Linked DNA regions of Homo sapiens: region 1 is linked to region 2. Evidence: fine-mapped expression QTL. A gene starts in region 2. The other region holds a variant in brackets. All regions are shown on one strand. Distances are between the middles of the regions. Region 1 overlaps MAK (male germ cell associated kinase). Region 2 holds the start of MAK (male germ cell associated kinase).

The links.
Region 1: its variant is fine-mapped to the expression of MAK in whole blood (TOPMed, PIP above 0.99).

Annotation. Positions count from the first base shown.
Region 1 is chr6:10,784,047-10,786,960 of GRCh38, reverse strand. It overlaps MAK (male germ cell associated kinase), which reads left to right. Exons shown (of 15, transcript NM_001242957.3): 11 at 2,389-2,537. Among named protein-coding and RNA genes, the nearest start is that of TMEM14B, 38 kb to the right of the region's middle. The variant A/G (reference allele first, on the strand shown) is at 1,378.
Region 2 is chr6:10,836,814-10,839,727 of GRCh38, reverse strand. It overlaps MAK (male germ cell associated kinase), which reads left to right and starts at 1,189. Exons shown (of 15, transcript NM_001242957.3): 1 at 1,189-1,225. RefSeq lists enhancers at 507-666, 717-776 and a silencer at 997-1,126.

The DNA.
Region 1 (2,914 bases), 53 kb after region 2:
ATAGGAGGTGAACTGGTGCATTAGCGGAGTGGTGAATAGGAGGTGAACTGGTGAATTAGCGGAGTGGTGAATAGGAGGTGAACTGGTGAATTAGCGGAGTGGTGAATAGGAGGTGAACTGGTGAATTAGCGGAGTGGTGAATAGGAGGTGAACTGGTGAATTAGTGGAGTGGTGAATAGGAGGTGAACTGGTGCATTAGTGGAGTGGTGAATAGGAGGTGAACTGGTGCATTAGTGGAGTGGTGAATAGGAGGTGAACTGGTGCATTAGTGGAGTGGTGAATAGGAGGTGAACTGGTGAATTAGTGGAGTGGTGAATAGGAGGTGAACTGGTGCATTAGTGGAGTGGTGAATAGGAGGTGAACTGGTGAATTAGTGGAGTGGTGAATAGGAGGTGAACTGGTGAATTAGTGGAGTGGTGAATAGGAGGTGAACTGGTGAATTAGTGGAGTGGTGAATAGGAGGTGAACTGGTGCATTAGTGGAGTGGTGAATAGGAGGTGAACTGGTGCATTAGTGGAGTGGTGAATAGGAGGTGAACTGGTGCATTAGTGGAGTGGTGAATAGGAGGTGAACTGGTGCATTGAACAGACCCTGCCATCCCCTGCTTGGTCTCTCAGGCAGCCAGGGCCTCCCCATAAAGAATACAGAGTACCAAATACTAACATGTATACCTTTTATTTAATGGTTGTCTTATTTTTTAAATTATTATTATGATTGAGATGGAGCTTTGCTCTTGTCGCCCAGGCTGAGTGCAGTGGTGCGATCTTGGCTCACTGCAACCTCTGCCTCCCGGGTTCAAGTGATCCTCCTGTCTCAGCCTCCCAAGTAGCTGGGATTACAGGTGGCCGCCACCATGCCCAGCTAATTTTTGTATTTTTAGTAGAGACAGGGTTTCACCATGTTGGCCAGGCTGGTCTCAAACTCCTGATCTCAGGTGATCCACCTGCCTTTGCCTCTCAAAGTGCTAGAATTACAGGCGTGAGCCACTGCACCCAGCCTGGTTGTCTTCTTAAAAGTGAACAAAAAGCAAGATATTTATATTTAGATTTATACTTGTATTTATATTCAGTAGATGTTTACTAAATACCTAGTTGGAATTAAGCCTCTCTTCAACTCATCAAATATATGGCAACAGAAATAAGACCTCCAGAGGACTATAACACATGACAAGTGTGTGCATTTAGTGCCACTAGTGACAGCTGCAAGGAGCTCTGGGAGTTCTGTCTATGGGCAGAGATCCCTCTGATGAGGACAGAAAAGTCTTTTTAGAGTGAGTAGTTTTGGGAATGGGTAGAATTTCAGTTAGTGATATAACAGCAGTGGGCTCAGGGGAAGGGAAAGTTGCCAGAAATGGCGGGACTGTTCCCATTGAAGCAG[A/G]CGCACCTGTGCCTAGAACTGCCCCCAAGCAGGTGGCCAGCAGTTCAAAGGGCCACCCAAGTGAGTATCCATTTCCAAGGGAGCCAACTTGGTGAGTAGGGTTTGGTAGCATGAATTTCTAGGTGGAAACCATGGATGCTTGGAGTTAACAAGTGATGGAAATTGGGCAGTATATTCAGGCCCCAGCAAAGAAGGAGCCCAGTCGGAGGGTGGTGGGGAGAAGGTTGGTCGTGGAGGGCTCATTACAGCACACAGAGGGATGGGCAGCAACACAAAGCAATGGCCGCCTCACGCACTGCTGCCTGGTCAAACAGGCCTCAGGGACAGGCCTCGGGAATGAGACAGAACTAAGCCTCGAAGCAGAAAGTCCTCAGTCCGTACACAGAAACAGGACTGTGGGAGTTAGGGACCAACAGGCAGAGAGTCAGTCTTAATACTAACAAACACCACTAAACAGCTAGCGAGGTGCTTAGCCACTGCACAAGTCTGTTCTGGCTGAGACACAGGCATGTCTCCACAAATACCTATTTTCTGTGCCTGACACTAGGGTGACGGGAAATTGTATACGGGAGCTTTTCTAGCACTTCTTTCCCCATTTCAGTTTTTTAGGCCATCCAAACCATGCCCCAAACAACCTCATTGATTGTAAATTATTTTAGTCAACAGGTGAAGATGGCTGTTATTTCCCTCTCAGCACACCAGTTTCCCACGTTATGAATCCAACTGCAGCCGTTGCAGGACAGATAGAAACATGTTACACACAAGTAAATTGCTGCTCAGTTATAAAGGTTCCTGTCACATACTGGTATCAGAAATGAGTCTGTGCACGACCCAATATCTACGCGGGTGGAGGGGAAGTTGTCACTTAGCCAAAAGACTGATGGAAACCATTTAAGTGAGGTCAGATTGACTGGCTTAGGAAGATGTGCAGAGGGTGGGCGAGATGTGCAGAGGGTGGGCGAGATCCTCTCGTTGTTCGTGCTGTAATGCTACCTTTCATTGGCTTTCAAGGCTTCCAGAGCCAGTACCCTCAGGCTCCAACCACTCGACAGGGGAAAACAAGAGCTTACCTGCTGTTACTTCCCTAAAATCTGATTCCGAATTGTCAACTGCTCCAACCTCTAAACAGTACTACTTGAAACAATCAAGATATCTTCCAGGTAAGTAGAGCAAAGAAAATGTTTGCTGCTAACTAGAGTATAGATAGGTCAGGTTCAAGTGTCTTGGAATCTCCAAAGAAAGGGCAGCAGTGAAGCAAAAAATCTAATCACAGAGCTCTTTGGTAGCTCAGTCTGTCGCCAAGGACTTTTCTGGACCTCCTGTTTCTACCACTAGTAGAATTCTGCTCAAGAAATGCTTAGGAGCAAAAATCAAGATGATGAATATGCTTCCAGAAAACACCAACCCCCACCCCCCACCAAAGCTATGCATTCAGTAAATCCTAAATTTTATTAAGCCAATTCTATGCCCCCATTACAACTTTTTATAAAATGTAGATTTTCAAATACTCTTTCCTAAATGATCTGGTGTACATTTT
Region 2 (2,914 bases):
GTGGTGAATTCTGAGATTTTAGTGCACCCATCATCTGAGTAGTGTATATGGTACCTAGTGCATAGTTTTTTTTATCCCTAGGCTCTCTCCCATCCTCCCCTTTCTGAGTCTCCAAAGTCCATTATTTCACTGTGTATGCCTTTGCATACTCATAGCTTGGCTTTTGCTTATAAGTGAGAACATACAGTTTTTGGTTTTCCACGCCTGTATTACTTTGCGTAGAATAAGGACCTCCCACTCTTCCAAGTTGTTGCAAAAGACATTATTTCATTCTTTTTTTGTGACTGAGTAGCAGCCTATGGTGTATATATACCACATTTTCTTTATCCACTCATTAGTCAATGGGCACTTAGATTGGTTCCACATCTTTGCAATTGTGAATTGTGCTGCCATAAACATACGCGTGAAAGCCTACTTCACTTTAAGCTGTGAGGGCCACAGGCATGTCTGTCGTGTCTACCTTGGCGCTATTCTTGGTCCCAAGCCCACATCCTGACACCTAATAATTACTAACTTGCCGCACCACTGCTTCATCACTTATGTTTCTGTTTCGTAGACCCTTTTTGCCAGCCAATCTGAACTATTTGCAGTAACACAAGTGTGCCTTCCTCTCTAAATTCTAGACTAGTTACAATTTACCCATTTATTCACACATTCAGTCATTTTTCTTGGAATTACCACTATCTAACTCTGTGGCTGATACTAGGCAGGTTCTCTGAATGAATAAATGGAAACAAACTTAGAAGGGCAGCTCAAGAGGTAATACATACCCAAGGAATTGACCAATTTAAGGAACTGCATACAAGAACAGTTTTTCCCCAGGCACAAGTAAACAAGTGCAAGTATGAGGCAAACAGACTTCCTTCTCTTGCTCTGCCCGGTCTGGGAACCATATTTTAATTAATCAAGACTTTGTAGAATGAATCGGAACAAAACCAAAACAAAATAAAGGGCAAACAAACCAACTTCTGACAAAGACCTGACTGAAAAGGTAATCAACTCCCCTAAACCCCAAGTCTAAATGGCACACTTGCTGCAGCTCAGCCGACAGTCCCCCGGCTCCATGAAGCCCCGCCCCGGGGAAGGCGGGGCCTGCGGGAATTGGCGGGGATTTCCCGCGAGGCCACGCCCTCTCTGGGCCGGCCGTAGGCCCGCCTGCTGCCCCCGCCGTTTCCTAGGAGATGAAACACACAAGACGCCGGAGCTTCACAAGGGAGCGAACGAGGTAAGCAGCAGGCGCGGACAGGTAATCCCCAGCGGGCTGCAGGGCCACCACCCTCTGTCCGACCCAGCCGGAGCCCGACCTGCGAGGCTGGCCGGGCATGTCCCCTCGGCGCCCTGTGCTACCAGGGCCAATCTCCGCCCGGAGACCGGTCCCTGACGCCGGTAGGGGAAGGACTGGAGGGAGGAGGGTCCCCGGAGGGGCGGAGCGGGCGGGAGTGGTCAGCCCGAGGGAAGGCGGTCGGTGTCTCCCAGACCTCTTGACCACTTTCCCGCCTCCTGGACCGCGGGGGCCGGCCTGGCGTGGGAGGATGACGGCCGGGCGTCCCTTAGCCTGAGACCCCCGCCCCTAAACTCTCCTCCGGGATCTCCCACCTCTGCTCCCCTGCTGCTTGGGCTGGCGGTGGAAACTGTTTTTAGGACAGAGAGGCAGGATTGGGTCTCAGGGAGGCAGCGGAACTGAGTTCAGAACTGTTGCAAAATCTAAAAGGAGGGAGAAAAACAGGAATTAGGTCCGACTCCAGCCCTCGCTGGTGCATCCCAAAGGACGCTCAGGTGAAAGTGGAATTCCGCACACCCCCGTCCCCCCCAACGGCGCCGGACTCCCGGCGCCCGGGGACGCCCCCTCCTTCCACCACGCGGTCCCTGGAGCCTTTTAAGAGCCCTGGTTTGCAGAGTCGGATCAGAAAGTGTGTGACGAAAACTGTCCCTTTTCTGCAAGTAATCCGTTTTAATTTAGGGACAGGTCGAGAGTGCGGTGTCGAGAGCAATAAAACTGGTTTTTAGTGGTTAGTAATCTCAATCCTACAAGGAAAGAGCTGTATGCAAATGTGGTTAGATAATCGTTTAAAAGAAACAGACATTTGTTCTAATGATAACGGAATTCTCAAAGAGGGAAGCCAAAGTTATCTGACTTTATTTATTCAGAAACACAACCCATTAAGTGAAATAATGGTGAAAACAAAAGTGACTTTCCAGCTTTTCGATCGGGCCCCGCCTCCCCGGCCCTTCAATTCCCGAGGCTTGACCGGGAGGGAGAAAGTTCCCCCAACCGCGCCACCGCCTGCTTCCACTGCAGGCACCGGGCAGGACGTTTAATCTCTTCGTCGGGGTGGACTTTTTTTGTGTATAAGCTTTGAAATAATTTGTGAATATGAGCACAGAGAACTGTGCTTTTATATTTTAAGATACAGTCTTTGTTTTCCCATTGTAATAGCTCATTTAATTTCTGTAAAACTTCGACTTGGTTAGTTTGGGATCTTTTTTTCCTGCGTTGCTTTTTAAAGAGTTTGGTGACTTTTAAAACGTTAATTACTCTTTTGTTGTGTATTAGAAGCGTTAAGCCAGCCTCGGAGTGACATAATATGTTCTAGAAAGCCACGTTGAAGACATCCAAGCCTTATCTCTTCAGTTTTTGGCAGACGCTTGTTTTACCCTTCATTTGCCCTCTTTGCTAATCTTCTTTAATCCTATCTGAATCTCTTATTAGCTGGCAAAAGCTGTTGAGAGTAAAGGCTATATTTACAACAATTGTGCACTTAGAGAAACGGTAATTATGAACTTAGATTAAAAAGTTGAAAACTAGAATGAGAGATAAATTATAAGGGTATTTATTTTTGTGTAGGTCTATAATTAAGCCTCTAAATAAGCATCTTTTTCTTTAACCCATAGGAAGGTCAATAAATGTTATAGC